Linked DNA regions of Homo sapiens. The protein of the gene in region 4 interacts with the protein of the main gene of each other region in a pairwise test. Each region holds a gene or a part of one and is shown on either strand. Other genes may lie near its edges. The genes, in order: RNF19A, ALG8, RAI1, RPS6KA5, DNAJC11 and ROBO2.

Region 1 (4,952 bases), on a different chromosome or scaffold from region 4:
TGCGTAAGTGGGGGTGGGAACTGGTAAGTAGTGTGAGTGCGTAAGTGGGGAAAATAAAGTAACCATTTAGAAAAGCCTGTTATCTTAGGGTATATGATGTATATAGTACAATGACTGTAATTCTTTTATCCAAAGCAAGGGTGGCAGTGGTTACCTGGTAGGCAGTTGTGACTTCTGGTTGTATACATAGCCATATCAAATAGATTTCTCCTTATAGCCATACCCTTTAATATAAAACCAACTTTTGTCAGGCATGGTGACTCATGCTTGTAATTCCAGCACTTTGGGAGGCCAAGGTGGGCAAATCACCTGAGGTTAGGAGTTCGAGACCAGCCTGGCCAACATGGTGAAACCCTGTCTCTACTAAAAATACAAAAAAAAATTTACCTAGGTATGGTGGTGGGCACCTGCAGTTCCAGCTACTTGGGAGGCTGAGGCAGGAGAATTGCTCCAACCTGAGAGGTGGAGGTTATAGTGAGCCGAGATTGCGACATTGCACTCCAGGCAGGGTGACAAGCAAATCTGTGTCTCAAAAATAAAAATAAATAAATAAATAAAAACTTTTTTTTGGAGACAGAGTTTCACTCTGTCACCCAGGCTGGAGTGCAGTGACGCAATCTTGGCTTACTGCACCCTCCGCCTCCCAGGCTGAAACGATTCTCATTCCTCAGCCTGCCAGTAGCTGGGATTACAGGCACCTGCCACCACACCCAGCTAATCATTTTTTTTTTTTTTTTTTTTTTTTACAAGCGGCGAGGTTTTGCCATGTTGGCCAGGCTGATTTCGAACTCCTGGACTCAAGTGATCCGCCCACGTCAGCCTTCCAAAGTGCTGGGATTACAGGCGTGAGCCACTGCACCTGGCCCATTTTTAAAATTATGCACAAACGTTAAATATCCTTTAGATTTTTGCATAATTTAGCATACCTTACTGATGTCCTTAGCAAAAATTTCCAGAACCATATTTTAGTGTGTTGCATGGTAACCCCACAAAAGATATGTTCATGTCCTAATCCCCAGAATCTGCAAATGTTATTTGGAAAAAGGGGTTTTGCAGATGTAATTAAGTTAAGAATCTTGAGATAAGATCATCCTGGATTATCCAGGTAGCCTCAAAATCAAGTGACAAGTGTCTTTGTAAGGGACAAGTAGACCCATTACAGAGAAGACGACGCGCAGAAAAGGAGGAAGCAGTGTGCTCATGGAGGCGGAGATTGGAGTGATGTAACCGCAAGCCGAGGAATGCTTATAGTCACCAGAAGCTGGAAGAGTCAAAGGACACATTCTCCCCTCAAGCCCCAGTGGGAGCACGGCCCAGCTGGATTTTGGACTTCTGGCCTCCAGAACTGTAAGAGAAATGTCCATTGTCTTAAGCCAACCAGTTTGTGGTAGTTTGTTACAGCAGCCCCAGGAAACTACTATGCAGTCAAAAGTCTTCAGTAAACCAAAAATCTCTAATTATCGTTGTTTTATATCATGTGCTATGATGATCAGAGACTAAACAGCTCTTTCGTTAGAATTCTAATTCTGAGAAATATCAGAGGAAGTGTTTTAATACCCTCCAGTCTCAACAGGAATCGATTATATCTTATAAGATACATTTTGTTATTTTGCTTGTATCGTTTCTTTCTTCTCCTAACTTGCTCCTTCTTTGCTCTTTGTATACTTTTTAAGATGTAGTTGACATGGGGGAGGGGAATGAGTAAAACACTAGTAGGATAGACCAACAGGTTTTGTCTTCTTTAAAGTGTAATTCCTCCATGATCCCCCTTCCACCTTTTCTGTCTCCTTTACTGGATTCGCCTCTTCTCCCCTACATCTTAATGTTGGGATGCTACAGACCTCATTCCCTACTCTTTAATATTTACTTTTTGGTGATTTCATCTGTGTTCACGATTTTACATACCATCCAAATAACAGCAACTCCAAAATTTACATCTCTAGGCTTTACTTTTTTCCTAATCTCTGGGCTTGTCAAACGGGTGTTTGGATATACATCTCCACCTAGGTATAAGAGATATCTCAAGTATAAATGTCTAAAAATGAACTTCTGGTCTTGGCTCACTCTTAAAACTTGTGTTTCATAGCCTTCCCCATTTCAGTTGATAGCAGTTTCAGCCTTCTGATTAATCAGGCCAAATCCTCTTGTAATCCATCAGGAAATCCTTACAGTTTTACCTTCAAAACATGTCCTCAACACCTTCACTGATGTGCCATCGTCATCTTTCTCATAGATTACTTCAGTAGTCTTTAAACTGTTCTCTGTGCTACCATCCTTAATACCTCCCCATCTGTTCACAACACTTGAATGATCCTTTTAAACTTAGATTTTAAACTATCTCTGTCACTTTAGAAACCCAAGTTTCCCTGTCTCACTTAGAATAAAAGCCAAAGTACTTACAGTGGCCTTAACCCCACACAACCTGGCATTCTCATGTATCTCAGATAGTCTTTGCCTTGCTCATTAATTTTCAGCCATATTAGGGCCTCCTGGCTATTCCTTGAGCATACCAGACACATTCCTCCCTTAGGGGCTTTGCAGTGGCTGTTCTGTGCCTTGGATGCTCTTTCCCCAGATTTCCACATAGCTAACACCTCCTTTACCTCCTTCAGGTCTCTGCTAAATGCCACCCTTTCAATGAGACTGTGATCACCCTGTTTAAAATAGTAATCAACACCACACATACACTGATCTCCTTTGCTCTGCCTAACTTTTTTCCCCACCTTCTAGTAAAGAATAATATTAAAATATTTAGACGATATTTAGAAAATTGTAAACTTGTATATAAGAGCATGGAGTAACTTTTAGTAATGCTTATTTATAGTTACTGACCTAGAATGATTGTGGAGATAAGATAGGAGTTGGGCCTTGAAAGAGGAGTAGGACTAGCAGTGAAGATGGAAAAGAATACTCCAGGCAGAGACAAAGGCGTAGGAAAATTCATAGAGTTGAAACTATATATGTTTTGTTAAGATATTTAACAAATAGGTCAGTTGGCTAAAGTGTGGGGTTTTTATGTAGAACAGTGAGAAACTGAGGTTGCACTGTGGAGGGCTTTTAATGCCACAGGAAACTTGAAATTTATTCTTCATCTCGGGGAAACCAGTGGAAATTTGTAAGCAGACTTTAACAAAGAGGATAATGTGGTAATTTGGATACCAGGTGATTAATGAAGGCCTAGTCTAGGCAGTAAGATAGTAGAAAGAATGCTGAGCCTTTAGCTCTGCCACGTTAGCTGTGTGGGTAAGTCACATCTCTAGACCAGTGCTGTGCAATAGAACTTTCTGTGGTGAAGGAAATGTTCTAGACCTGTTCAGTCCAATATGGTAGCCAATAGCAACCTATGGTTGTAGAGCATTTGAAATGTGACTAGCACAACTGAGGAACTAAAATTTAATTTTAATTTAAATAGCCTCATGGGACTAGTGGTGATACATCGAACCTACTAGCTCTAAATTCAGTTTTCTCACTTACAAAAATAGGTTAGATTAGAATGCTAGAGTCACTAGAAGGATAGGTTTCACAGCCACATAAAGTTGGTGCAGCCTCTTGAGAAGAGCAAGTAAGTACATGAGCACAGGGACCTTTACATGACTAGTTTTTTTGTCTGTGTGAAATAGGTCCAGAATTTGTAGCCTTTTCACTCTTTGTATCTTCTTGACTTACTTAAAAGACTCACTCTGTTTTTTGATGGCTGCTTTTTCAAATTAGTCTTTGGATTACTGTCTCCCAGGAGTTGACTAGTTAAATATCTGATACATCTAATTTAATAGTCTGTTTTAGAATTGTAGTTAAACTGATTATGTTGCTTTTGTTTTTTTATTTTTTAATTTTTTTCTATTTCATTTTTTTCAGAGACAGGGCCTCACTGTGTCACCCAGGGTGGAATACAGTGGTGTGATCATAGCTCACTGCAGCCTGGAATTCCTGGGCTCAAGCAACCCTGCCACCTCAGCCTTCCAAGTAGCTAGGACTACAGGTGTGCACCACCACACCCAGCTAATTTGTGTAGTTTTTGTAGAGATGGGTTTCACCTTGATGCCCAGGCTGCTCTTGAACTCCTAATTTCGAGTAATCTGCCTGCCTTGTCCTCCCAAAGCGCTGGGATTGCAAGCATGAGCCACCATACCATGCCCAGCTGATTTTGTTGCTTTTGAATTCTCAGTAAGAAAACCGTAACAGAGATAAACCTTTATGATTGTTTACCTGCTGTGTAATTATTACCTAGATTTTTCTGTCTTTAGAAAATACTCCCTTTTCTTTCCTTATACAGTTAATAATATTTCCTTTGTACGTGAGTTTTTAATCTCATTTTCGGGAGACTTGTGTAAAGAGAAGCTAATTTGAATACTACATACCCAAAGGGAAACAGACACATTTTGCTTATTGTGCCTCTTGGTTCCCAAGAGATATTATTCCATCTGAGAATTACCTTATAGTTTGAAGAAAATTTTAAAACTAAGTTCTAGGATCTCTACCAAACACCTCTTACAGATTGCACTCTTATCTCCTATGTACATATATCATTCAATTACATGCACACACAATGATTTAGCTAACCAGAGGTCTTCCCTCCCCCTTACTCATGGTGTCCTTTAGGAGAAAGAGACAAATGAGCTTCCAAAATTGGAGAGGTGGGATGCTACTGTTATCAATAATTTGTATGGAGTTGAGGGATTTCCAGAGAAAGTGGTTAGGATAAGATTAGTCCAAACACTTAATACTTTTTTTTTTCTTTTTTTTATTTTGAGACAGAGTTTTGCTCTTGTCACCCGGGCTGGAGTGCAATGGCACAATCTTGGCTTACTCAACCTCCACCTCCTGGGTTCAAGCAATTCTTCTGCCTCAGCTTCCCGAGTAGCTGGGATTAAAGGCATGTGCCACCACACCCAGCTAATTTTGTATTTCTAGTAGAGACAGTGTTTCACCATGTTGGCCAGGCTGGTCTTGAA
Region 2 (4,952 bases), on a different chromosome or scaffold from region 4:
TTGAAAGTTTTACTGTGGGTAAAATCCTATCAAACAGCATTGCATACTAGAGGAATCTTTTGTGAAAGGAAGAGCCCATCAATGTGGCAAGCTTCATTGTTGTTTTATTTTAAGCAATTGCCACAGTCTTGCCAGGCGCAGTGGCTCATGCCTGTAATCCCAGCGTTTTGGGAGGCTGAGGCGGGCGGGTCACCTGAGGTCAGGAGTTCAAGACCCGCCTGGCCAACATGGGGAAACCCCGTCTCTACTAAATATACAAAAATTAGCCAAGTGTGGTGGTGGGCACCTGTGATCCCAGCCACTTAGGAGGCTGAGGCAGGAGAATCACTTGAACCCAGGAGGCGAAGGTTGTAGTGAGCCAAGATCACACCATTGCACTCCAGCCTGGGTGACAAGAGTGAGACTCCATCTCAAAAAAAAAAAAAAACCAGTTTGCCACAAGTCACCCCAATCTTCAGCACCCATAAACCTGATCAATCAACAGCCATCAACATTGAAGCAAAATCCTCCACCAGCAAAAAGATTAGGACTTGCCGAAGGTGCAGATGATCATTAGCTTTGTTTTAGCGATAAAGTATTTTAAAATGAAGGTGTACGCTGTCTTTTTAGACATAGTAGTATTGCACGTTTTATAGTATAGTGTAAACATAACTTTTTTTTTTTTTTGAGACGGAGTCTCGCTCTGTCGCCCAGGCTGGAGGGCAGTGGCGCTATCTCGGCTCACTGCAAGCTCACCTTCCGGGTTCACACCATTCTTCTGCCTCAGCCTACCGAGTAGCTGACCCTACAGGCGCCCCTCACCAAGCCCGGCTAATTTTTTTTGTATTTTTAGTAGAGATGGGGTTTCACCATGTTAGCCAGGGTGGTCTCGATCTCCTGACCTCGTGATCCGCCCGCCTCGGCCTCCAAAGTGCTGGGATTACAGGCGTGAGCCACCGCGGCCGGCCAGTGTAAACATAACTTTTACATGCTCTGGGAAATCAAAAAATTCATGTGACTCACTTTATTGCGATATTCACTTCATTATGGTGGTCTAAACCCACAATATCTCTAAGGTATGCCTGCACTAAAATCGAATGATACAGGAAGCTTAGCATGGTCCACGCACAAGGATAGCATGCAAATTTATGAAACACTTCATATATTTAAAAACGAATGTTTTTAATTGTAGTTAATGCTCTGTTTCTCAAACCAGAAACCCCTGGGATATGAGAGGGAAGTTACAGGATAAATGCAGATATATTCAACAAAACATTTACTAATTGCTTTATTATGTACCAGGTACTGTTGCTAGGCTAGAAGGGAGGAAAAAATAGATATGATCCCTAGCCCTGTGAAGTGTGTAGTTCAGTAAGTATAACAGTACAAGAAACAAATCAATGCAAATATATAGTTACATAACTACAATTTGGATTAAGTATTAGGAAGAAGAGGCTGGGTGTGGTGGCTCACGCCTGTAATCCCAGCACTTTGGGAGGCCGAGGCGGGCGGATCACGAGGTCAGGAGATCGAGACCATCCTGGTTAACACGATGAAACCCCGTCTCTACTGAAAATACAAAAATTAGCCGGGTGTGGTGGTGGGCGCGTGTAGTCCCAGCTACTGGGGAGGCTGAGGCAGGAGAATGGCATGAACCCGGAAGGCGGAGCTTGCAGTGAGCCGAGATAGCGCCACTGCACTCCAACCTGGTCGACAGAGTGAGACTCCATCTAAAAAAAAAAAAAAAAAAAAAATGGAAGAAGAAGAACAGGATCCTATCAGGCGACCAAGAAGGAAGATGTACTTTCAGTTAGGTGTCAGAGAATGTCTCTGAGGAACTGACATCATTGGAGGCCTAAAGTGTGAATGAGAGGGCCATCCATGCAGAGTATGTGGTGTGTGCAAGTGTGTAGAACTTATCTGAAAGAGCACACTGTATAAATATAGGCCCTGTGGTGTGAAAGTATTGACCTATTTGGGCAGCTATGATAAGGCCAGTGTAGCTGGCATGGAATAAGCAACAGAGACAGAAACATGCACAGTGAAATTGGAAAGATAGGCACCAAATCATGCCGGAGCTTATAAAGCCAGGATGAAAAATTTAGATTTTGATTTTATAAGCTCAGTGGAAATGATCTGCATTTATAAAATATTTTTTGGCTCCCATATAAATGATTGGAGGAGGCAGAAGGAGAGTCAGGAAGGCTAGGTGCCCTTTGAGAAAGTCTACATGAGAGAAGATGCTGACTTGAATTGGAGTGGTGGCATTAGAGATAGAAATGGACAAATTAAAGATTTATTTTGCCTTGAGGTCAGGAAGGATTTGCAGAGAAAATAACAACTAACTTTGGAAGTATTTGGTGGTTTAAGAGCCGTAGCTAGGGAGTCAGACTGCCCTGGTTAGAATCTGGCTCTGCTGCATACTGGCTACATGACAGGGCAAGCTGCTTCTCTACGCCACTGGTGAAATGGTAAGAGTTAAAGAACCTACCTCACACAGAGTGTTGCAGGCAGAGGGAAAAGGTGAATGTAGAGTAAGACAAAGACAGGTGGGAGGATGGTGAGAAATGGGCTGAAAAGGTGAGTAAGCGAGATCCAAAAATATCTTTTAGACTATGTTGAGTACTTTAGATTTTATCCAGAGGGCAGAGGCCAGTTAAAAGGGAAATATAACATTCGTGATTTAGAAATACTACTTTGGCTGCAATGTGAAAGCTAGATTAATGAAGGGCCTGAGTGAAGATGGGGAGTTCAATTTAAGAAGCTATCATAGGACAAGTAAGAGATGGTAGGTTTTTGTTTGTTTTAATTTTTAGAGACAGGGCTGGGTGCAGTGGCTCACACCTGTAATCCCAGCACTTTGGAAGGCCAAGGCAGGCAGATTGCTTGAGCTTGGGAGTTTGGGACCAGCCTGGGCAACATAATGAAACCCCGTCTCTACAAAAAATACAAAGAATTAGCTGGAGATGGTGGTCAAAAATTTTAGAGACAGAGTCTAACTCTGTTGCTCAGGCTAGATTACAGTGGCACAGTCATAGCTCACTGCAGCCTCAAATTCCTGGGCTCAAGCCGTCCTCTGGCCTCAGCCTCCTGAGTAGCTGGGACTACAGGTGCACACCACCACACCAGCTAATTTTTAAGTTTTTTGTAGAGATGGGAGTCTCATTATGTTGCCCAGGCTGGTCTTGAACTTCCAACCTCAAGCTATCCTCCCACCATGGCCTCCCAAAGTACTGGGATTATAGGCATGAACCATTGTGCTCGGCTGATTGTAGATTTTGTTAATGCAATTTAAAAAAGTAGTTACTATTTATCATTATGTCTCTAGTCTTAGTTTTGCTTTTTTTTTCAAGTGTCATTTCAGCAATTAAGATTACTTTTACTGATGGGTGCAGTGGCTCACGCCTGTAATCCCAGCACTCCAACAAAAGTGAAGTCTCCAACAGTTTTGAATAGGAAACAACAAAATAAAGCACCCAAAAAAGAGACTGGAAAAAGTCTATATAGTACAACTATATAGGAAAAGAAAGTGTCCCCAAACTCACTCAGATTTTGTAAATGCTGTCTCCAAAGAGAGTAAAAAAGACATGTCTATAAAACAAGAACAGATGCTATGAAACAGGAATTATCAGAGAAACAGTGGTTAATAGAAAATGTTATTGCCAAAATTAAGGACAAATTGAGTAAATCTTTCAAAAATATAAGAGAAAAGATAAAAATTATAAGTTCAATCTAGGGTGTCTAGCATCCATCTAAAAAAATTTCAGAAAAAAAACACAGGGGAGGAGATTAACAAATAATAAATTTCCCAGAGCTGAAGGCACTACATACTCAGCATAATTAATGAAAAAAGACCCTCATGAAGACATTAATCACTAGACATTTCAGACTGCTATGGATAAAAAGGAGAAACAGGAAACTTCCAGAGATGAAGGGAAAACCATAAAGTAAAGAGACTTACCAACATCAACATTTTATACTAAAAACCAATGGAATAAGCTTCCAAAGTTCAGTGGAAGTAAATTTCAACCTAGAATTCCATACAAAATCCAGTATAAAATACCAGAAGTGCAAATCATAAATGTACAGCTCACTGAATTTTTGCAAAGTGAATACATCTGTAAAAAGCATATAGATCAATAAGCAGAATATTATCCCTCGGGCATCTTTCCAGCCACTCCCCACAACCCCACCCCACTAAAGGTATTGATATTCTCACCTTTTTTTTTTTTTTTTTTTGAGACCGGGTCTTGCTCTGTCTCCCATGCTGGAGTGCAGTGGTGCAAACTTGGCTCACTGTAGCCTCAGCCTCTTGGGCTCAGGCAGTCCTCCCACCTCAACCTCTTGAGTAGCTGGGACTACAGGGGCGTGCCGCCATGCCTGGCTAATTTTTAAATTTTTTGAGAGATGGGGTCTCATTGTTACCCAGGCTGGTCTTGAACTCCTGAGCTCAAGTGATCCACCCGCCTTGGCCTCCCGAAGTGTTGGGATTACAGGCGTGAGCCATCATGCCTGGCCTCTGATGTTCTTTTAACCGCATAGGTTAAATTTTGCCTGTTTTTGAATTTTTGTTTGGGTTTTTTTTGTTTGTTTTTGAATTTTATACAAATGTAATCATACAATCTATTCTCTTGGGTCTGGCTTTCACTCAACATTAAGTTTGTGCGTTGTTGTGTAATTACTGTTTTTTCATTCTTATCACTAGATAGCATGGTTCTCAAACTTTTTAGTCAGAATCACTTCTTAAAAATAATTGAGGGTCACAAAGAGCTATATGTTTATGTGGGCTGTATAATAGATAATTACCATTTTAGAAATTAAAACAAATTGTTCAAGCACAAGAATATACAAGCACAAATTTCACTGGCCTTCAGAGTGATGACATCACATTATGTAGCCTCTAGAACATCACTGTATACTTGTGAGAGAATGAGTGAAAGTAGAACAAATTACATCTGAATATTATTATGAAA
Region 3 (4,952 bases), on a different chromosome or scaffold from region 4:
TGTGTGTGCATGCGTGTGTGTGTGTGTGCGCGCGTGTGTGTGTGAGCATACATATGCTTGTGTGCACGCATGTGCGTGGGGACAGGGGCAGACCCTCCTCAGTCCCCAGCATGGCTGGGTCATGCTTGAACACGGTCGCGAAGGGACTAAATTACAGGATCCAGCAGGCCCCAGGGGATGAGGGAGCGGGAATTGCTCTGCTAAATGCTTTTGAGCTGTCAGGAAGGGCTGGGAGTGATGGGTGGGGGACATTGGGGAGGAGCTGGCAATGGGCGGGGGGGGGGCGGGTAGCTCCCCAGTGACCTGGCGCTGGGCAGCCGGTTTTGCCTCCCGCATCAGTGGCCGTCCTTGGCAAGACTCAGCTGCAGGCGATGTGGGAGCGGGAATTACAGAGCACACCTCCCTGACACAGAAGTTGTCAATATGCGCACAGCTGGTGGGGAGGCTCAGGCGAAGGGGGGACTATTAAGAGCTGCGCGGGGGAGCAGGCAGGGTGGGGAGGTGGGTGGGAGGGTGCTTTCTGAGGCAAAAGGAAGTGGCCCGTCTGAATCGCTCATCCTCTGCCCCCTCCCTGCCCATCCTCCCCTCCCTCCTTCCCTCCCTCCCTCCCTTCCTTTTTCTTTTCACAGATAACCAGCCCGAGTCATGCAGTCTTTTCGAGAAAGGTGTGGTTTCCATGGCAAACAACAGAACTACCAGCAGACCTCGCAGGAAACATCACGCCTAGAGAATTACAGGCAGCCGAGTCAGGCCGGGCTAAGCTGCGACCGGCAGCGGCTGCTCGCCAAGGACTATTATAACCCGCAGCCTTACCCGAGCTATGAGGGTGGCGCTGGCACGCCCTCTGGCACTGCAGCCGCGGTGGCCGCCGACAAGTACCACCGAGGCAGCAAGGCCCTGCCCACACAGCAAGGCCTGCAGGGGAGGCCGGCTTTCCCTGGCTACGGCGTCCAGGACAGCAGCCCCTACCCAGGCCGCTATGCTGGTGAGGAGAGCCTTCAGGCTTGGGGGGCCCCACAGCCACCACCCCCACAGCCGCAGCCACTACCTGCAGGGGTGGCCAAGTATGATGAGAACTTGATGAAAAAGACAGCAGTGCCCCCCAGCAGGCAGTATGCAGAGCAGGGCGCCCAGGTGCCCTTTCGGACTCACTCCCTGCACGTCCAGCAGCCACCGCCGCCCCAGCAGCCCCTGGCATACCCCAAGCTCCAAAGGCAGAAGCTGCAGAACGACATTGCCTCCCCTCTGCCCTTCCCCCAGGGTACCCACTTTCCTCAGCATTCCCAGTCCTTCCCCACCTCCTCCACCTACTCCTCCTCTGTCCAGGGTGGTGGGCAGGGGGCCCACTCCTATAAGAGTTGCACAGCACCGACTGCCCAGCCCCATGACAGGCCGCTGACTGCCAGCTCCAGCCTGGCCCCGGGGCAGCGGGTCCAGAATCTTCATGCCTACCAGTCGGGCCGCCTCAGCTATGACCAGCAGCAGCAGCAGCAGCAGCAGCAGCAGCAGCAGCAGCAAGCCCTTCAGAGCCGGCACCATGCCCAGGAAACCCTCCATTACCAAAACCTCGCCAAGTATCAGCACTACGGGCAGCAAGGCCAGGGCTACTGCCAGCCGGACGCAGCCGTCCGGACCCCAGAGCAGTACTACCAGACCTTCAGCCCCAGCTCCAGCCACTCACCCGCCCGCTCCGTGGGCCGCTCACCTTCCTACAGTTCCACACCGTCGCCGCTGATGCCAAACCTGGAGAACTTTCCCTACAGCCAGCAGCCGCTCAGCACCGGGGCCTTCCCCGCAGGGATCACTGACCACAGCCACTTCATGCCCCTGCTCAATCCCTCCCCAACGGATGCCACCAGCTCTGTGGACACCCAGGCTGGCAACTGCAAGCCCCTTCAGAAGGACAAGCTCCCTGAGAACCTGCTGTCGGATCTCAGCCTGCAGAGCCTCACGGCGCTGACCTCACAGGTGGAGAACATCTCCAACACCGTCCAGCAGCTGCTGCTCTCCAAGGCTGCTGTGCCGCAGAAGAAAGGTGTCAAGAACCTCGTGTCCAGGACCCCAGAGCAGCATAAAAGCCAGCACTGCAGCCCCGAAGGGAGCGGCTACTCAGCCGAGCCCGCAGGCACACCGCTGTCAGAGCCGCCGAGCAGCACGCCACAGTCCACGCATGCGGAGCCGCAGGAGGCCGACTACCTGAGCGGCTCCGAGGACCCACTGGAGCGCAGCTTCCTCTACTGCAACCAGGCCCGTGGCAGCCCTGCCAGGGTCAACAGCAACTCGAAGGCCAAGCCCGAGTCCGTGTCCACCTGTTCTGTGACCTCTCCTGACGACATGTCCACCAAATCTGACGACTCCTTCCAGAGCCTACACGGCAGTCTGCCGCTCGACAGCTTCTCCAAGTTCGTGGCGGGTGAGCGGGACTGTCCGCGGCTGCTGCTCAGCGCCCTGGCACAGGAGGACCTGGCCTCCGAGATCCTGGGGCTGCAGGAAGCCATCGGTGAGAAGGCCGACAAAGCTTGGGCTGAAGCACCCAGCCTGGTCAAGGACAGCAGCAAGCCACCCTTCTCGCTGGAGAACCACAGCGCCTGCCTGGACTCTGTGGCCAAGAGTGCGTGGCCCCGGCCTGGGGAGCCGGAGGCCCTGCCCGACTCCTTGCAGCTGGACAAGGGCGGCAATGCCAAGGACTTCAGCCCAGGGCTGTTTGAAGACCCTTCCGTGGCCTTCGCTACGCCTGACCCCAAAAAGACAACTGGTCCTCTCTCCTTTGGTACCAAGCCCACCCTTGGGGTTCCTGCTCCAGACCCCACTACAGCAGCTTTTGACTGTTTCCCGGACACAACCGCTGCCAGCTCAGCGGACAGCGCCAACCCCTTTGCCTGGCCAGAGGAAAACCTGGGGGATGCTTGTCCCAGGTGGGGATTGCACCCTGGCGAGCTTACCAAGGGCCTGGAGCAGGGTGGGAAGGCCTCAGATGGCATCAGCAAAGGGGACACCCATGAGGCTTCGGCCTGCCTGGGCTTCCAGGAGGAGGACCCCCCTGGGGAGAAGGTGGCCTCGTTGCCCGGGGACTTCAAGCAGGAGGAGGTGGGTGGGGTGAAGGAGGAGGCAGGTGGGCTGCTGCAGTGCCCCGAGGTGGCCAAGGCTGACCGGTGGCTGGAGGACAGCCGGCACTGCTGTTCCACCGCCGACTTCGGGGACCTCCCACTGCTGCCACCCACCAGCAGGAAGGAGGACCTGGAAGCTGAGGAGGAGTACTCCTCCCTATGTGAGCTCCTGGGCAGCCCCGAGCAGAGGCCTGGCATGCAGGACCCGCTGTCACCCAAGGCCCCACTCATCTGCACCAAGGAGGAGGTGGAGGAGGTGCTGGACTCCAAGGCCGGCTGGGGCTCTCCGTGCCACCTCTCAGGGGAGTCCGTCATCCTGCTGGGCCCTACAGTGGGCACCGAGTCAAAGGTCCAGAGCTGGTTTGAGTCCTCTCTGTCACACATGAAGCCAGGTGAAGAGGGGCCTGATGGGGAGCGAGCTCCAGGGGATTCCACCACCTCGGACGCCTCTCTGGCCCAGAAGCCCAACAAGCCTGCTGTGCCCGAGGCGCCCATCGCAAAGAAAGAGCCTGTGCCACGGGGCAAAAGCTTACGGAGCCGTCGGGTGCACCGGGGGCTGCCCGAGGCCGAGGACTCCCCATGCAGGGCACCAGTGCTGCCCAAAGACCTCTTGCTCCCTGAATCCTGCACAGGGCCCCCCCAGGGACAGATGGAAGGGGCTGGAGCCCCAGGCCGGGGGGCCTCGGAAGGGCTCCCCAGGATGTGTACTCGTTCTCTCACGGCCCTGAGTGAGCCCCGCACGCCCGGACCCCCAGGCCTGACCACCACCCCTGCACCCCCAGACAAACTGGGGGGCAAGCAGCGAGCCGCCTTCAAGTCGGGCAAGCGGGTGGGGAAGCCCTCACCCAAGGCTGCCTCCAGCCCCAGCAACCCGGCCGCCCTGCCTGTGGCCTCCGACAGCAGCCCGATGGGCTCCAAGACCAAGGAGACAGACTCACCCAGCACGCCTGGCAAGGACCAGCGCTCCATGATCCTTCGGTCACGCACCAAAACCCAGGAGATCTTCCACTCCAAGCGGCGGAGGCCCTCTGAGGGCCGGCTCCCCAACTGCCGTGCCACCAAGAAGCTCCTCGACAACAGCCACTTGCCCGCCACATTCAAGGTCTCCAGCAGCCCCCAGAAGGAGGGCAGGGTGAGCCAGCGGGCAAGGGTCCCCAAACCTGGTGCAGGCAGCAAGCTCTCTGACCGGCCCCTCCATGCGCTCAAAAGGAAGTCGGCCTTCATGGCGCCGGTCCCCACCAAGAAGCGGAACCTGGTCTTGCGGAGCCGCAGCAGCAGCAGCAGCAACGCCAGTGGCAATGGGGGAGATGGGAAGGAGGAGAGGCCTGAGGGTTCCCCCACCCTCTTCAAGAGGATGTCTTCTCCCAAGAAAGCCAAGCCCACCAAGGGCAATGGCGAGCCTGCCACAAAGCTCCCACCCCCGGAGACCCCCGATGCCTGCCTCAAGCTCGCCTCTCGGGCAGCCTTCCAGGGGGCCATGAAGACCAAGGTGCTGCCACCCCGGAAGGGCCGGGGCCTGAAGCTGGAAGCCATCGTGCAGAAGATCACCTCGCCCAGCCTCAAGAAGTTCGCATGTAAAGCGCCAGGGGCCTCTCCTGGTAATCCTCTGAGCCCATCCCTTTCCGACAAAGACCGTGGGCTCAAGGGTGCTGGGGGCAGCCCAGTGGGGGTGGAAGAAGGCCTGGTAAATGTGGGCACCGGGCAGAAGCTCCCAACTTCTGGGGCTGATCCGTTATGCAGAAATCCAACCAACAGATCCTTAAAAGGCAAACTCATGAACAGTAAGAAACTGTCTTCTACTGACTGTTTCAAAACCGAGGCCTTCACATCCCCGGAGGCCCTGCA
Region 4 (4,952 bases):
ACATATGGCTACAATGAAAACAGGTGGCTGTAGATAATTCACTGTATTTAAGACAACAGTGAGAAAAATAAAATAAAAACAGGGGTAATTACAGATCAAATAGGAAGGCCTATATGAAGTTTTTCAAGTCCTTAACCATAGTTACATGTCCTGGGGAAAGGATGGTGGAAATGGAATAGAAAAACATAGTTATTCAGGAGTTCTGCTATCTCTCTATTTTCTGTTAACATCAATACCATCTTTTTGAAGCAGTTGGATTATCCTTTTCTGTTCTTATTGCTCTGAATATAGTCATAAATGTGATTTTAAATCTATATCATAACAAGCCATGCCACTGGTTTACAAGTCTTTGAGATGTATTCACTGCCTCAGTGATAGAAGTCACGTAATCTTTTTTTTTTTAATACTTTAAGTTTTAGGGTACATGTGCACAACGTGCAGGTTTTTTACATATGTATACATGTGCCATGTTGGTGTGCTGCACCCATTAACTCATCATTTAGCATTAGGTTTATCTCCTAATGCTATCCCTCCCCCCTCCCCCCACCCCACAACAGTCCCCGGTGTGTGATGTTCCCCTTCCTGTGTCCATGTGTTCTCATTGTTCAATTCCCACCTATGAGTGAGAACATGTGGTGTTTGGTTTTTTGTCCTTGCGATAGTTTGCTGAGAATGATGGTTTCCAGCTTCATCCATGTCCCTACAAAGGACATGAACTCATCATTTTTTATGGCTGCATAGTATTCCATGGTGTATATATGCCACATTTTCTTAATCCAGTCTATCGTTGTTGGACATTTGGGTTGGTTCCAAGTCTTTGCTATTGTGAATAGTGCCGCAATAAACATACGTGTGCATGTGTCTTTATAGCAGCATGATTTATAATCCTTTGGGTATATACCCAGTGATGGGATGGCTGGGTCAAATGGTATTTCTAGTTCTAGATCCCTGAGGAATCACGTAATCTTTTAAACTCAATCATGCTAGTTGTAGCAATTGGTAAATTACACCAGTTACGTTACTATTAGGATTATTAGAGTGGCTTTAACAGATCTGGGTAGTCATTCTGTTTTGTTACTTTTTCCCTGATAGTACACAATGTTGTCAGGACAGGTTCCCTTCCAATCTCATGACCGAAGTTTGACGTGTACCAGCGCGGTGGAAATCATGAAGAAAATTAAAAAGGGAGATTTCTCCTTTGAAGGAGAAGCCTGGAAGAATGTATCCCAAGAGGCTAAAGATTTGATCCAAGGTAAGAATCTAATGAAATTTTACATTTTATATGATGTGTAGTGATTGAAGTAGAATCATGGCCATTACACATACATTCATATGTTAATTACTCGAGGAATCCATGTGTATTCTAAAAGGCTTCCAGGCTACTCTCTTCAGCCTTGTTTTCTTATCAGAACATTCTCTTTAGTAATGGTATCCACATTTCTAACATGAGCTAGCACTTGACTTCCACTGGCATCTCAGTCAAGCACATCTAAAACAAACCAATACTTTTTGACTGTCCTTCCCCCCAAACACGCTCCTCCTCCTGTCTTTCCTCCTGTCAACAGTGGCACTGCTAAGAAGCCAGATCACCAAAACAGAAACCTAGGCGTCCTCCTGGATACCTGCACCTGCCTGCCTTCTGCAGCCAGTCACAGAGTTCTACACATTCAGCAGCGCTCCTAGCAGTCCGGTCCCTTCCTTCCCATTCACCTGCCGTTGCCTTTGTTCTCATCACCATTTCTCTCCCCAAATCCTGCAGCATCCTTTCACCTTGCCTCACTTCCTCTGACTTAAGCTGTTCATCATCTGTCAATAGAGGGACTTTTCTAGAATCCCTATGTGATTATGCCTCTTTTCTGCCAAAAATCCTTTGGAGACTCTCTGTTTGCTTCAGGTCAGACTCCTTAGCCTAGCATTTAACATTCAAAGCCCCTCATGACCTGGTCCTGTCTGCCTTTGTTTCCTCCTCACCCCAGCTCTGCCGTTGCAGGATATTTGAATTCCTCAGATATGCTGAGCTTTCAGATCCCTCCGTGTCTTTACATGCTCTTAATCCTCTTCCATAGCCACTTCTCCTTATCCTACAGGATTCATCTCCTAGAAGCCTTCCAGGATGCCCTCACTCCCTAGGCTACACTCTCCCTCAGGCCTGCTAACACACTGTGCCTGTGTATCTTGCTATCGCACTTATCCCTGATGTTATAATAGCTGGGGTTTTGCCTGTGTGTCTTCTGATATTAATAGCTCCTCTCTGCATCTCCATCTCCATATCTCTAGTGCCTTACTGCACTCCCTGACCTATAGAAGATGGCCAGTAAATGTTTGGTATATGGATGAAGTAGATCTGTGTGCTTTTTGCTCATTTGGAGCTTACGAAGTCACCAGTGGGAATCTTTGTTTTGGATGTTTATTTTCTCCTGATTGAAAAGCCACTTCGCCTGGAGCTTCCTAGAAATAGGCTACTGTGACTTTATCATTAGACTCCAGCATTCACAAAAGAATTTAAATGAATAGGAAAATCTAATTATCTTTGTAGGAGGTTAAAGCTATATAGAAACCATTATGTCATGTGAACATAGCTGAGATTTATTTCTGAGTTTGTTTTTAAACCATGTTTAAAATGACAAATCATAAAATAAAAATATCTATTCCCAAAGGACTTCTCACAGTAGATCCAAACAAAAGGCTTAAAATGTCTGGCTTGAGGTACAATGAATGGCTACAAGATGGAAGTCAGCTGTCCTCCAATCCTCTGATGACTCCGGATATTCTAGGATCTTCCGGAGCTGCCGTGCATACCTGTGTGAAAGCAACCTTCCACGTAAGGCCCTGTGCTCTGTACATGTTGGGCGGTTTGAGTAGGAATCATAATCAAATGTTCTTACTCTGTAGCCTCAGATACGTTTTCTTTGTTTCACATTTAAAATAATATGTGTCCTTTTACTTTTAGGTATGTTTTTATAAATTGCTTCATGGTTATAAACACTTTATAACAATAAGTGCACAGGGGACCAGAGTCACTGCTAACCCACAAAATACATATTTAATTTTTAGAATGACCTTATGAGATGAGATAATAGAACTTTTTCCTCTCAAATAGACTGACTAAATTTCTTTAAAAACCATAATAAACATTAGGAACTAAGGCATATTTGAAAGTCCATTCATTTTACAACCATTTAGTACATCACACATTCTTAAAACTGGGAGGGATATGAAGTAAGTTCATTGGTATTAAGTATAGATTGTATGTTTGAAAGACTGAGACTATTTGGTAGAAACTGTGGATTATGCACATTTGTGCCAAGCAGATGCAAATATATTAAGATAATTCATGTGAAGTATAGTATAAGATGAGTTAGGGAAACAGAAAGTCACCTTCAAAGGGATTATTTTGAGAAAGGAGAAGGTATAGGGATAGTGCTTCTTCAGCAGCAGAAATGGATTTAAAAAGTAATAAACTAGGAAATGTTGAGATGGTAAAGAGATTAACTGCAAGAATTTCTATCAGATGATCCAAATCTTCTCAGTGACATAGGTTGCAAGGTGACAACTACAAGGTGTAACTGCAGCATTATCCAAGCCTAGGCTAAGGAGAGTGAAGACAGGCTGCAGGAGGAGGAAGCCAGGGCAAAGCTGTAGAGCTGTGCTTCTCCATGCGTGTAAGTGTCCAGTATATATCCAAATGACATTGAATGGGACTGAAGAGCAAAGACTCAGAATGCGTCAAGTCTGCTTGCATTGGGACTTTGTGTTCAGAATTTTAAATCTTAGACACAGAACCAGTAAAAGCAATGGGGATAGTTTAGATTACTGATGGTCTTCAGGAATTTCCAGTCAATTGTTTCGTATTAGGATGTAGTACTAACTTCTTCAAAAGATTTATTAGAATTGTGACTCTCAGACCGCCTAGCTAGTTTGATATAAACAGAGCCCTCAGAATTTTTTTCCCATGAACTTCTCCACCCTGCCAATAGACTTAGATATAAAGGTTTTAAGAGCTTTGTTCCCTTAAAACAACTTGGGGCTGCAGTTGCCAATGGAAAGTTGTCTTCTGCTGTAAGTCATAACTGCTAGGAAAGCTTCAGTACTTTTACCTTCACAGGGGTTCCCTTTTTTTCCCCCGCCAGGCCTTTAACAAATACAAGAGAGAGGGGTTTTGCCTTCAGAATGTTGATAAGGCCCCTTTGGCTAAGAGAAGAAAAATGAAAAAGACTAGCACCAGTACCGAGACGCGCAGCAGTTCCAGTGAGAGTTCCCATTCTTCTTCCTCTCATTCTCACGGTAAAACTACACCCACCAAGACACTGCAGCCCAGCAATCCTGCCGACAGCAATAACCCGGAGACCCTCTTCCAGTTCTCGGACTCAGTAGCTTAGGCATGGTAGGAGTGTATCAGTGATCCATTGCACCTTTATTCCCTCAGCATATGCCTGAGGCGATCTTTTATGCTTTTAAAAATGTTTCCCGTTGGTCTCATTGGAATCTGCCTCCTAATGATTTTTTTCAGGAAAACCTGTTTGGTTATCCTCATTCAAAAGCACTGGACAGAGAATGTTACTGTGAATAGAGCACATATTACTCTTTTTAGCAACCTAGCATGATGCCAACAAGACTATTCTTGAAAGAGCAAAGGTTCCTGTAAATTTAATTAGGGCTAGATTTGAGCTGCTTGTAAGTCACAGGTTTTCCAGATGTCTGCCAACAAGAAATGACTCATACTGTGATGATACCTTTTGCTTTGCCTTGTGGACAATGTGGGTTTTTGAAATTTGCACCCTTCAAACAATGATTTATCAGAGAAAGGGGTCTGTTTTCAAAAAAGATTCTGTAATGAATTTTATGTGTGGCATATACTTATTTCTTGAGAGAAGATTTTAACTTATTGTTTTTATTTTATGGTTACATATGATGATAACCTGCTATTATTAAACTTTTTCTAAAAAGTGAAA
Region 5 (4,952 bases), on a different chromosome or scaffold from region 4:
ATGTTCATATATATATTTGTTGCCCTTGAGACTAATAGAAAATCAAAAGGCCCCAGTCTCTAGAAACAAGCTCCAGAGTTGCACCAAAATTGATGGCTCAGATCCTATCTTCACAGTAAGAAATCGGCTTATTTCTCCCTAAAAGCCTGACCTTATACCTTCTGTCATTCGTGTTCATCCGTTATACCCTGCCTACTCATGCAGACTTCTTGTGGTTGATCTCTATTGGCTTGGCATTTTACTGCTGAAGAATTTTCTGGCTCCTGTCAACTAGGGAGGGTAGGCTGCACACTCAAAACATGCAGAAGTGGTTCCAACAGTCCATGAGCCAAACAGGAATCCAGCTGTCAGATTTTCATCTCGAAGGAGGTTCCACTCCAAGCTGCAAGCTCCTTCCAGGGACTGCAATCTGTACCAGGCATATGCTGTAACAGTGGTAATAATGCAGCAATGTTCTCAATTGTCTTCTTTTTAAGAAATGTGTGACTCCTTTAAAAAATATATGCTATTTTATTTTTTCATCTGTTGTCTTACATCCTTTCTTAAACAAAGGTGTAAGTAAGTAAAATTAAAATGAAAGGTTAATAAAAAGCAGACAATAAAATTCTACAGCCAAGCAAAGCATGTTGCTCTCATGTCCCGTTTTCCATTGTTTTATTACTAAATTCACAGCAAATACAAAAGTTTTCCATTGAATTCTCTTTAAGAAAGAAAATAAAAGAGGTGTTTTGGTAGATAATGCAAAATTAGAGCATTAACATTTCAAGAAGCAATTGTTTGAAATGCCCAAAGCAGAAAATAACTGGCTTATAGATCATTAAAGAAACACATTGTGAAATGTAACCTCACGTTTGCCAATCACATTATGAGATGACATTGGAAGTGGTGGGGCATCCTCAACAGCCCCCTCCCTGCACACAGGCAGCTTCTCTAAACTCCACTTCCCGGGCACCCTCTTGGGCCCACCCCTGCCCCCAGCTCTGCCTCCTCTCTGCTTGGCTCACAACTATCCTATCTTTACCCCAAACACCCAAAAAATGTTATCCTTGAGCCTGCACCCTACTCCCATACTTAGCCCCAACTTCCAGGAAAGCTCCCTATCCCCATGTCAACTTTCCAGGAAGCACAAGTTCAGAGAGATCACTGTCTTTTAAAAAGAACAAACTCAGTGTTTTGAACAGAAAGTAAAAAATGCTTCAGGAATTTTTTTTTTTTTTTTTTGAGATGGAGTTTTGCTCTTGTTGCCCAAGATGGAGTGCAATGGCACGATCTTGGCTCACTGCAGCCTCTGCCTCCCGGGTTCAAGTGAATCTCCTGCCTCAGCCTCCCATGTAGCTGAGATTACAGGCATTTGCCACCACGCCTGGCTAATTTTTGTATTTTTAGTAGAGATGGGGTTTCTCCATGTTGGTCACGCTGGTCTCAAACTCCCGACTTCAGGTGATCTGCCCGCCTCAGCCTCCCAAAGTGCTGGGATTACAGGCATGAGCCACTGCGCCCAGCCTCTTTTTTTTTCTTTGACAGAGTCTTGCTCTGTTGCCCAGGCTGGAGTCCAGTGGCACAATCTTGGCTCACTGCAACCTCCGCCTCCTGGGTTTGAGCAATTCTCCTGTCTCAACCTCCCAAGTAGCTGGGATTACAGGCGAGCATCACCACACCCGGCTAATTTTTTTTTTTCGTATTTTTAGTACAGACAGGGTTTCGCCATGTTAATAAGGCTGGTCTCAAACTCCTGACCTCAGGTGATCTGCCCGCCTCCGCCTCCCAAAGCGTTGGGACTGTAAGGCGTGAGCCACCACACCCAACCTCAGGAATTTCATAAACTAATGCTTAGCATACATTCTAGCACTATGATTTTTAGTAATATTACAAGTGGATAGCAAAGTTCATCCTTAGCCAGGATGAAGCATACCAAGTATGTCTTTCACATTTTTAAATTTATTTATGTACATGTATGTCTTTCACATTTTTATTTATTGTTATATTATCGTTTAGATGGATTCTTGCTCTGTCGCTCAGGCTGGAGTGCAGTGGTGGTGCGATCTTGCTTCACTGCAAACTCCATCTCCCGGGTTCAACCAATTCTCTTGCCTCAGCCTCCCGAGTAGCTGGGATTACAGACGCCCACCACCACACCCAGCTAGTTTTTGTATTTTTAGTAGAGACAGGGTTTCACCATGTTGGCCAGGCTGATCTCGAACTCCTGACCTCGTGATTCACCCGCCTCAGCCTCCCAAAGTGCTGGGATTACAGGCATGAGCCACCACGCCCAGCCTTTTATTTATTATTATTTTTATAGACGGAGTCTCGCTTTTTATAGACAAAGTCTCGCTCTGTCGCCCAGCCTAGAGTGTGGTGGTGTGACTGCAGCTCACTGCAGCCCCAAACTTCTAGGTTCAAGCAATCCTCCTGTAACCAAGTACCCCCATTTTTTTTTTTTTTTTTTTTTTGGAGACAGAGTCTCGCTCTGTTGCCCAGGCTGGAGCACAGTGGTGCGATCTCTGCTCACGGCAACCTCCACCTCCCAGCAGAGATTCTCCTGCTTCAGCCTTATGAGTAGCTGGGATTACAGGCGCCCGCCATCAAGTCTGGCTAAGTTTTGTATTTTTAGTAGAGATGGGGTTTCACCATGCTGGCCAGGTGGGTCTTGAACTCCTGACCTCAAGTGATCCGCTGGCCTCAGCCTCCCAAAGTGCTGGGATTCACAGGCATGAGCTACCATGCCCAGCCCCATTTTTTCTAAGAGATAGTTTAATTATTTTCTCCTCTCCCCCTTTCCCCGGTACCCTGCTTCCTACTTAGCCCTTTAGAAATGCAAATATAACCTTTCCCCTCCCCCTCACCAGACATCTTCTATGGGGCAAGTTCAGCTAACTACGTGCTCCAAGACGGATCTCTTGACAGTGGATTTGCAGACCAAATCATGTCCCCATGGCCACTTTTACTTCTTTCTGCCCAGGAAGATGCCAACTCAATTGCCAGTTAGATAAAGTACCCAGATAGCAGGGGGACCCCTGCCCTTGCTCATTTCCTCCTATACCTTATAAAAGTGCCTGCTTTCTGCTCTAAAAGTGAAGCGGTACAGCAGGACATCGTGCCCCTTCCCCAAGCTGACTTCAGAGTAAATTCACTGGCTTTGTATGCGCCTCACTCTTGTTAACTGGACTCTGCATGCGGTAAACAACTGACCTGCTTTTCGGCTGCACCTCCACCTTAGGCTGGACTACAGGTTACAGCTCATGCCACCATGCCCAGCTAATTAAAAAAAATTTTTTTTGGCTGGGCGCGGTGGCTCACACCTATAATCGCAGCACTTTGGGAGGCTGAGGCGGGCGGATCACAAGGTCAGGAGATCGAGACCATCCTGGCTAACACGGTGAAACCCCGTCTCTACTAAAAATACAAAAAAAAAAAAAAAATTATCCAGGCATGGTGGTGGGGGCCTGTAGCCCCAGCTACTCAGGAGGCTGAGGCAGGAGAATGGCGTGAACCCGGGAGGCGGAGCTTGCAATAAGCCGAGATCGCACCACTGCACTCCAGCCTGGGCAACAAAGCGAGACTCCGAATCAAAAAAAAAAAAAAAAAAAAAATCAGCTGGGCGTGGTGGCAGGTGCCTGTAGTCCCGGCTACTCGGGAGGCTGAGGCAGGAGAATGGCGTGAACCCAGATGGCAGAGCTTGCAATGAGCCGAGATTGTGCCACTGCGCTCCAGCCTGGGTGACAGAGCGAGACTCTCTCAAAAAAAAAAAAAAAAAAATTTTTTTTTTTAATTAAAGATGGAGTCTTGCTACGTTATGCCAACCCAGGCTGGTCTCAAACTCCTGGACTTAAGTTATCCTCCTGCCTTAGCCTCCTAAGGTGCTGGAATTACAGGTGTGAGCCACCCCCCAATCCTTATGTCTTTTTTTAAAGTAAGCAAAACTTCAAACTTATCAAAATCCAAGAAATAACAATATATATTAACTAAATACCTACTTATGACAGGCAATTTATATACATTCTCAGCACCTAGCAACGCACATACCACACAGGTCATCCTGGCCTACAGTAAGTGCTTAAGCCATTATTACCTGTTACCTACATTCTAACATTAAAGAAACTGATGGCCAGGTGCAGTGGCTCATGCCTGTAATCCCAGCACTTTGGGAGGCCGAGGCGGATGGATCACGACGTCAGGAGTTTGAGACCAGTCTGGCCAACATAGTGAAACCCTATCTCTACTAAAAAAAAAAAAAAAAAAAAAAAAAAAAAAATTAGCCGGGTGTACTGGTGTGTGCCTGTAATCCCAGCTACTTGGGAGGCTGAGGCAGGAGAATTGCATGAACCTAGGAGGTGGAGGTTGCAGTGAGCTGAGATTGCGCCATTGCACTCCAGCCAGGGTGACAGTGTGAGACTCCATCTCAAAAAAAAAAAAAGAAATTGAGAAACAGAAAGGTTAAATTACTAGCGTTGAAGCATAGAACTTCCAGAAGAGTAAAATGGGATTTGAATACTGGACTCCAGCTGCAAAGCCCTACATAGTGGCCTCCCTCTATCCCATTGTTAACTAAGAAGTACTGGTGCCTCCATTCTGCAGGTAAGTAGAGGCTGAGGTTAAATGACTCGTTGAAGGTCACACAAGAGGCAGGCAGCATGGGCTGAAATTCTTGCTTCTCAGCCTCTTGGCTTACAGAACACCCTATGGAATGCAGACATCTGAATAAGTTGTTTTTGGACAACCGAGGCTTAATTCTATGTGCCTGAGGCACACATTTAACTGGAGTCATTATAAATATCAAACTTTAACATAATGTAGTAGATGGAAAATGAAGGAACTGACCTTTTCAGAGCCATCTTTATTTTTTATTAAGACAAAATTAACTGCCCATCATGAAGTTTGATAAGAAAGCAATAAATGTGTAAACACACACCACCTCACTGCTTTAGGTATTTGAGTCGCTCAAATTGGCACAG
Region 6 (4,952 bases), on a different chromosome or scaffold from region 4:
CTGGAGAGTTTCATAAGATCCAAGTGATGAACATCACAGGTGCTACAGTTTAACAGGAAAGTGTAATAAGAATTCCCAGCCTGGAAAGGGTTCTTAAAATACAAGTTGTCTGTTGGATTGTGAGTAGAGGGCAGGCATCAAACACCTCAGTTTATTCATAATAGTCTTATTGCCATGTGTACAGGGAGGTGGGAGGCAAGGGGGTAAGAGCTATATTTGCCCAAAATCTGTACCCACATGTTGTACATATTTTCTGATTCTTTTTTCTTTCACTTTAGTATTAAAAGTTGACATTATTCAGGCTTTCAAATCAGAAAGGTGGGACTGAAACACTTAAAAACATACTTAGCTATGAAATGTATTTACATGTTTCATGATAGCCAGTGAGGAATAACCCAGTTAAATCTGGTTTTGGGCAGAAAAGGAGGCCTTAAACCTCAACTGAATGACAACTTGATTTGTGAGTTCAGGGCTCATATGCCCATTTGATGAATTTTTTTTTTTTTTTTTGAGACAGGGTCTCCCTCTGTCACCCTGGCTGGAATGCAGTGGTGTACTCACAGCTCACTGCAGCCTTGACCTCGCAGACACAAGCAATCCTTCTACCTCAGCCTCCCAAGTAGCTGGGACTACAGGTGAGCACCACCATGCCCAGCTAATTTTTTTTTTTTTCTTTTTTTTTGCAAAGATAGGGTTTCACCATGTTGCCCAGGCTGATCTCAAACTCATGGGCTCAAGAGATCCTCCCAGTCTCCCAAAGTACTGAGATTACAGGCATGAGCCACGCTGTGTGGCCTGAAACATCTTTTCATTATTATTGTTTAACTCTTGAAATTATGCGAAAACAATTACAATGCAAAAAAAAAAAAATGTTTTGAGACCACCACATTAAATGTTGTAACTCTTCTTAGTCAATTTTGCATGGGGAAAAAAAACCAAAAAACAACAAAAAAAAAAAACACACAAAAGCAAAGACTGAGAATGTTGTACCTAGCATTTTCTTTTCTTTTTTTAAATGAAAGTAAGTTTATTAGAGTAGTAAAGAAACAGAAATGGCATTTTCTTTTTAAAAGGTTACATTTCTCCTACTCAGTTTCTACGCTAACCCATGATAGAGATGGGGTAAGAAGCACTAAAACAATTGGCGTTTGAGTAATAGCTTGTTGTTGCTGGCATTCAAAGGTACTTAGAATACACAAACGGTTATATACTTAAGATGAGGAAGGTGAAATGCTTAAGATGAGGAAGGTGAAATGCTGTCTCTGATTTAATGGAACAATAATAAGCTTGGTTTTCAATAACTGTACTGTTATCTGGCAACGTATTAAAATTTACTTTATAATAGAGATATAAAATACAAGAGTGCCTGTTGCTAGATTCATTCTAAATTTCCCCTAATTTACTCTAACCCTGAAATCTATATTTTATAATAATCGGATATATCTAAATAAGTTTAATCATATTCTAGCATTTGCTAGTATTTGGAAATATACGTATTATAAAACTTCTAAGTACGACTCTAACCTTGATTTATAAAAACTTATAAACTTTCCTTTATAATGAATAACTCTTAACTCAAGTTTTTTGGAAAGTCAAAATTCTCCCTTTTTGAATCACACTTATGAACATTTTAATTGGTTATAAGTGCTGCAGAGGTTTGGTCCAAATCCCTTAAATTCCAGTCTGGTTTCAACTGGGTGTTCCTTGCTTAAACTTGAAAAGCCTTTCAGTGGGATAGTTGAGTTATATTCCATGTTCTCCAGCTCATTTCCAAAAAGCTTGGAACCAAAGTCTAGGGAAAGAGATCCCACATCAATCCTTACAACAGAAATTAAAAAGTGGCTGTTAACCCCCTCTCCTGAGCTAAAATTTCCATGTTGCATATGGTTCTAGTTATAGTGGCCAGAAACTAAGCACATTGACCTAAGACTATTGTCTCCTTAGTATTAAATTTTTAAAATTCCATTTATTGATAAGGAAAGCCTAAGTACCACTGGTCATTAATGAATGAGAGTGGATGTGAATCATAAGACTAGTTAATTTTGGCTGTCATGCATATCCATAGCCATATCATTGAACCCACACCAAAACACAGATATGCTACATGCATATTAGACAATAGACTGTTATTGTTTTTAAAGATGGATGTTTATGGTTTTGGATAATTCTTTTCAAGCCTAAATTTGTGTGAGTGTGTGTGTGGAGACGGGGCCTCTGTCACCCAGGCAAAAGTGCAGTGGTGTAATCATGGCTCGCTGCAGCCTCAACCTCCTGGGCTCAAGGAATCCTCTCATCTCAGCCTCCCAAGTATCTGAGACCACAAGTGGACACCACCATGCCCAGCTAACTTTTTTTCTTTTTTGTAGAGACAGGGTTTCACTATGTTGCCCAGGCTGGTCTCAAACACCTAGGCTCAAGCGATCCTTCAGCTTCAGCCTCCCAAATTGTTAGGATTGCAGGGGTGAGCCACTGCGCCGAGCCCAGGCTAAATTTTCTTCTTTAAAAATTCTCAGATATAACAATAAATGTTGGAACATTAAACAGAAGTACTTGGGATAATAAAACCTAAGGTTCATGGAGACCTTGGAAATTACACAGTCAAATGAAACCATTTTTGGTAAGGTTCTAAGGCAATTAGAACAATTAACAATCCACTAGGGAAGCTAACAGTGCAGTCCAGAGATCTGGTCACCAAAGGTATGTCACTTCCACAATAGTAATGATATTGTTTTATTCAGGCTATCCTTTCTGATATGCATAACTACTCATTGTGCAAATGTAACTAATGGATAATTATAAAAAGTTATTAGATTCAATGTCTTATACTAAATGAAGGGAAGCTAAGGGGGCTATCTAGAAAACGAATTAGTGAGTGGATACCAAATGTTAATTTTTACTTAGGTCTTCGGTTCTCAAAGTGTTTATTTAGTTTGTCTTACACAAGATTTATCTCCACAGTACGTTATATCAAAGCACCAGGTAAAAATTATCCAGGATGAAATGTAAATCAGCCAACATGAACCAAAATGCAGGCTTACACAAGCATGGTCTACTTGCTAACAAATTGCCATTTGTGTGATTCCTCTCTTGTTTACTATCTTCATTCGTCGCACCTTTCACTTGGGAATCACATGTGTTTTGTAATCAGCTTATGATGCAATGGAAACACACATGTCATAGCACAACTGTCACAGCTGTGTAGGCGAGGCCACCGATAAGTTCCCTTAAGAGGCAACAAAAATTCTTAATCAGTCACCTGAAGACTCACAGCTGAAAAATCTTATTAAAATTGTCCTAACATGCACCCCAATTGTAGTCCATAATTAGTCTGATAGCAAAGTCCTCTTCTAGTTATTTTCCTTGTTCATACTAGGCAGGGAATAATAATCTAATAAAAATACTACTAATTATAACAATAAGTTATGCTTGAGTGGCATTTATAAAGTACACTGTTCATGGCATCATATATATCTTTTTTTTTGAGACGGAGTCTCACTCTGTCGCCGAGGCTGGAGTGCAGTGGCGCGATCTCGGCTCACTGCCAGTTCCACCTCCCAGGTTCAAGCCATTCTCCTGCCTCAGCCTCCCAAGTAGCTGGGACTACAGGCGCCCGCCACCACACCCGGCTAATTATTTTTTTGTATTTTTAGTAGAGACAGGGTTTCGCCGTATTAGCCAGGATAGTCTCGACCTCCTGACCTCGTGATCCACCTGCCTCAGCCTCCCAAAGTGCTGGGATTACAGGCGTGAGCCACCGCGCCCAGCCCATATATATCTTTATATACATCTTTATTTTATATATATATTTATTTATTTATATATATCATTATATATATTTTTTTGAGACGGAGTTTTGCCCGTTGCCTAGGCTGGAGTATAATGGCACAATTTTGGCACTGCAACCTCCACCTCCTGGGTTCAAATGATTCTCCTGCCTCAGCCTCCTGAGTAGCTGGGATTACAGGCACCTGCCACCATGCTCAGCCAATTTTTGTATTTTTTTTAAATAGAGAGGGGGTTTCACCATGTTGGCCAGGCTGGTCTTGAACTCCTGACCTCAGGTGATCCACACACCTCACCCTCCCAAAGTGCTGGGATTACAGGCGTGAGCCACCATGCCCTGCCTATATATCGTTATATTTTTAAAACTATTTTATTTCTCATTATAACTGTATGAGATATACATTATTACCATGCCCATTTTACAGGTAAGGACACTGAGGCATAAAAAGGTTAAATTACTTGTTCATACTCATTCAGTAGTGATTGCTCAGTAGTCTTTCAATAACCATCTTATCCTTCTTCCTTACAGGCAAACTATGTTGCAATCAATCTAGACTTCTTGCCATTTCCTTAGCACCCCTTTGTCATCTTCATGCCATTTTTCTGGTTACTTCTTTTCCTGGAATTCAATTTCCAATCTTTTTGCCCACCAAAATCCCACTCTTCCTCTAAGGTCCAGGTTAAGAGACCCATTTGGTGTTGACCCTTCCCAGATTGTACCAGCTGGAAATCACCTATTCCTTCTCTGAGTTCTCAAGACTATACTGTGTACACCTTCAAACTTCTTACTTATCAGACACTACTTTTTTTATTCTAGTGACTTGAACATTTGGTACCTTCCCTACCAAGTCATGACTTCCTTGAATGTGGGAATATTTTCACAGGTCAGCATGTTCTTCACAGAGCCAAGCAAGTTATGTTGTCAATATGCATGTGTTGAATCAAAGGAATAACCTAAACATATTCAAGCTCATTTTCTCATGGACTCTTCAGAAAATAGCTGGTCATTTTCAGTAACAAGAGCCTGGAATTCTTGTTAAGGAGTTCCAGGGCTAAGAATCCAGAAACAGTCTCTCATAGGCAGAAGCCTGGTACAGAGATGAAGCATCCCTGGAGTCTAGTTTCTGCTCTACCACTAAGTAGCAATGGGATCTGTGACAAGGCACATA

Evidence for each region.
Region 1: the proteins of RPS6KA5 (region 4) and RNF19A interact in a two-hybrid assay, tested with the Homo sapiens proteins (one large-scale study listed by BioGRID and IntAct).
Region 2: the proteins of RPS6KA5 (region 4) and ALG8 interact in a two-hybrid assay, tested with the Homo sapiens proteins (one large-scale study listed by BioGRID and IntAct).
Region 3: the proteins of RPS6KA5 (region 4) and RAI1 interact in a two-hybrid assay, tested with the Homo sapiens proteins (one large-scale study listed by BioGRID and IntAct).
Region 5: the proteins of RPS6KA5 (region 4) and DNAJC11 interact in a two-hybrid assay, tested with the Homo sapiens proteins (one large-scale study listed by BioGRID and IntAct).
Region 6: the proteins of RPS6KA5 (region 4) and ROBO2 interact in a two-hybrid assay, tested with the Homo sapiens proteins (one large-scale study listed by BioGRID and IntAct).

What each region holds. Positions count from the first base shown.
Region 1 is NC_000008.11:100,299,555-100,304,506, reverse strand, and holds part of RNF19A (E3 ubiquitin-protein ligase RNF19A), read left to right. Parts: intron 1-1,105; exon of another isoform or gene 1,106-1,347; intron 1,348-2,313; exon of another isoform or gene 2,314-3,979; intron 3,980-4,952. UniProt on the Homo sapiens protein: E3 ubiquitin-protein ligase which accepts ubiquitin from E2 ubiquitin-conjugating enzymes UBE2L3 and UBE2L6 in the form of a thioester and then directly transfers the ubiquitin to targeted substrates, such as SNCAIP or CASR.
Region 2 is NC_000011.10:78,129,615-78,134,566, reverse strand, and holds part of ALG8 (dolichyl pyrophosphate Glc1Man9GlcNAc2 alpha-1,3-glucosyltransferase), read left to right. Parts: intron 1-4,952.
Region 3 is NC_000017.11:17,792,304-17,797,255, forward strand, and holds part of RAI1 (retinoic acid-induced protein 1), read left to right. Parts: intron 1-629; 5' UTR 630-645; coding exon 646-4,952. UniProt on the Homo sapiens protein: Transcriptional regulator of the circadian clock components: CLOCK, BMAL1, BMAL2, PER1/3, CRY1/2, NR1D1/2 and RORA/C. Positively regulates the transcriptional activity of CLOCK a core component of the circadian clock.
Region 4 is NC_000014.9:90,871,501-90,876,452, reverse strand, and holds part of RPS6KA5 (ribosomal protein S6 kinase alpha-5), read left to right. Parts: intron 1-1,092; coding exon 1,093-1,252; intron 1,253-2,657; coding exon 2,658-2,821; intron 2,822-4,130; coding exon 4,131-4,379; 3' UTR 4,380-4,952. UniProt on the Homo sapiens protein: Serine/threonine-protein kinase that is required for the mitogen or stress-induced phosphorylation of the transcription factors CREB1 and ATF1 and for the regulation of the transcription factors RELA, STAT3 and ETV1/ER81, and that contributes to gene activation by histone phosphorylation and functions in the regulation of inflammatory genes.
Region 5 is NC_000001.11:6,691,407-6,696,358, forward strand, and holds part of DNAJC11 (dnaJ homolog subfamily C member 11), read right to left. Parts: intron 1-4,952.
Region 6 is NC_000003.12:77,046,576-77,051,527, reverse strand, and holds part of ROBO2 (roundabout homolog 2 isoform 23 precursor), read right to left. Parts: intron 1-4,952. UniProt on the Homo sapiens protein: Receptor for SLIT2, and probably SLIT1, which are thought to act as molecular guidance cue in cellular migration, including axonal navigation at the ventral midline of the neural tube and projection of axons to different regions during neuronal development.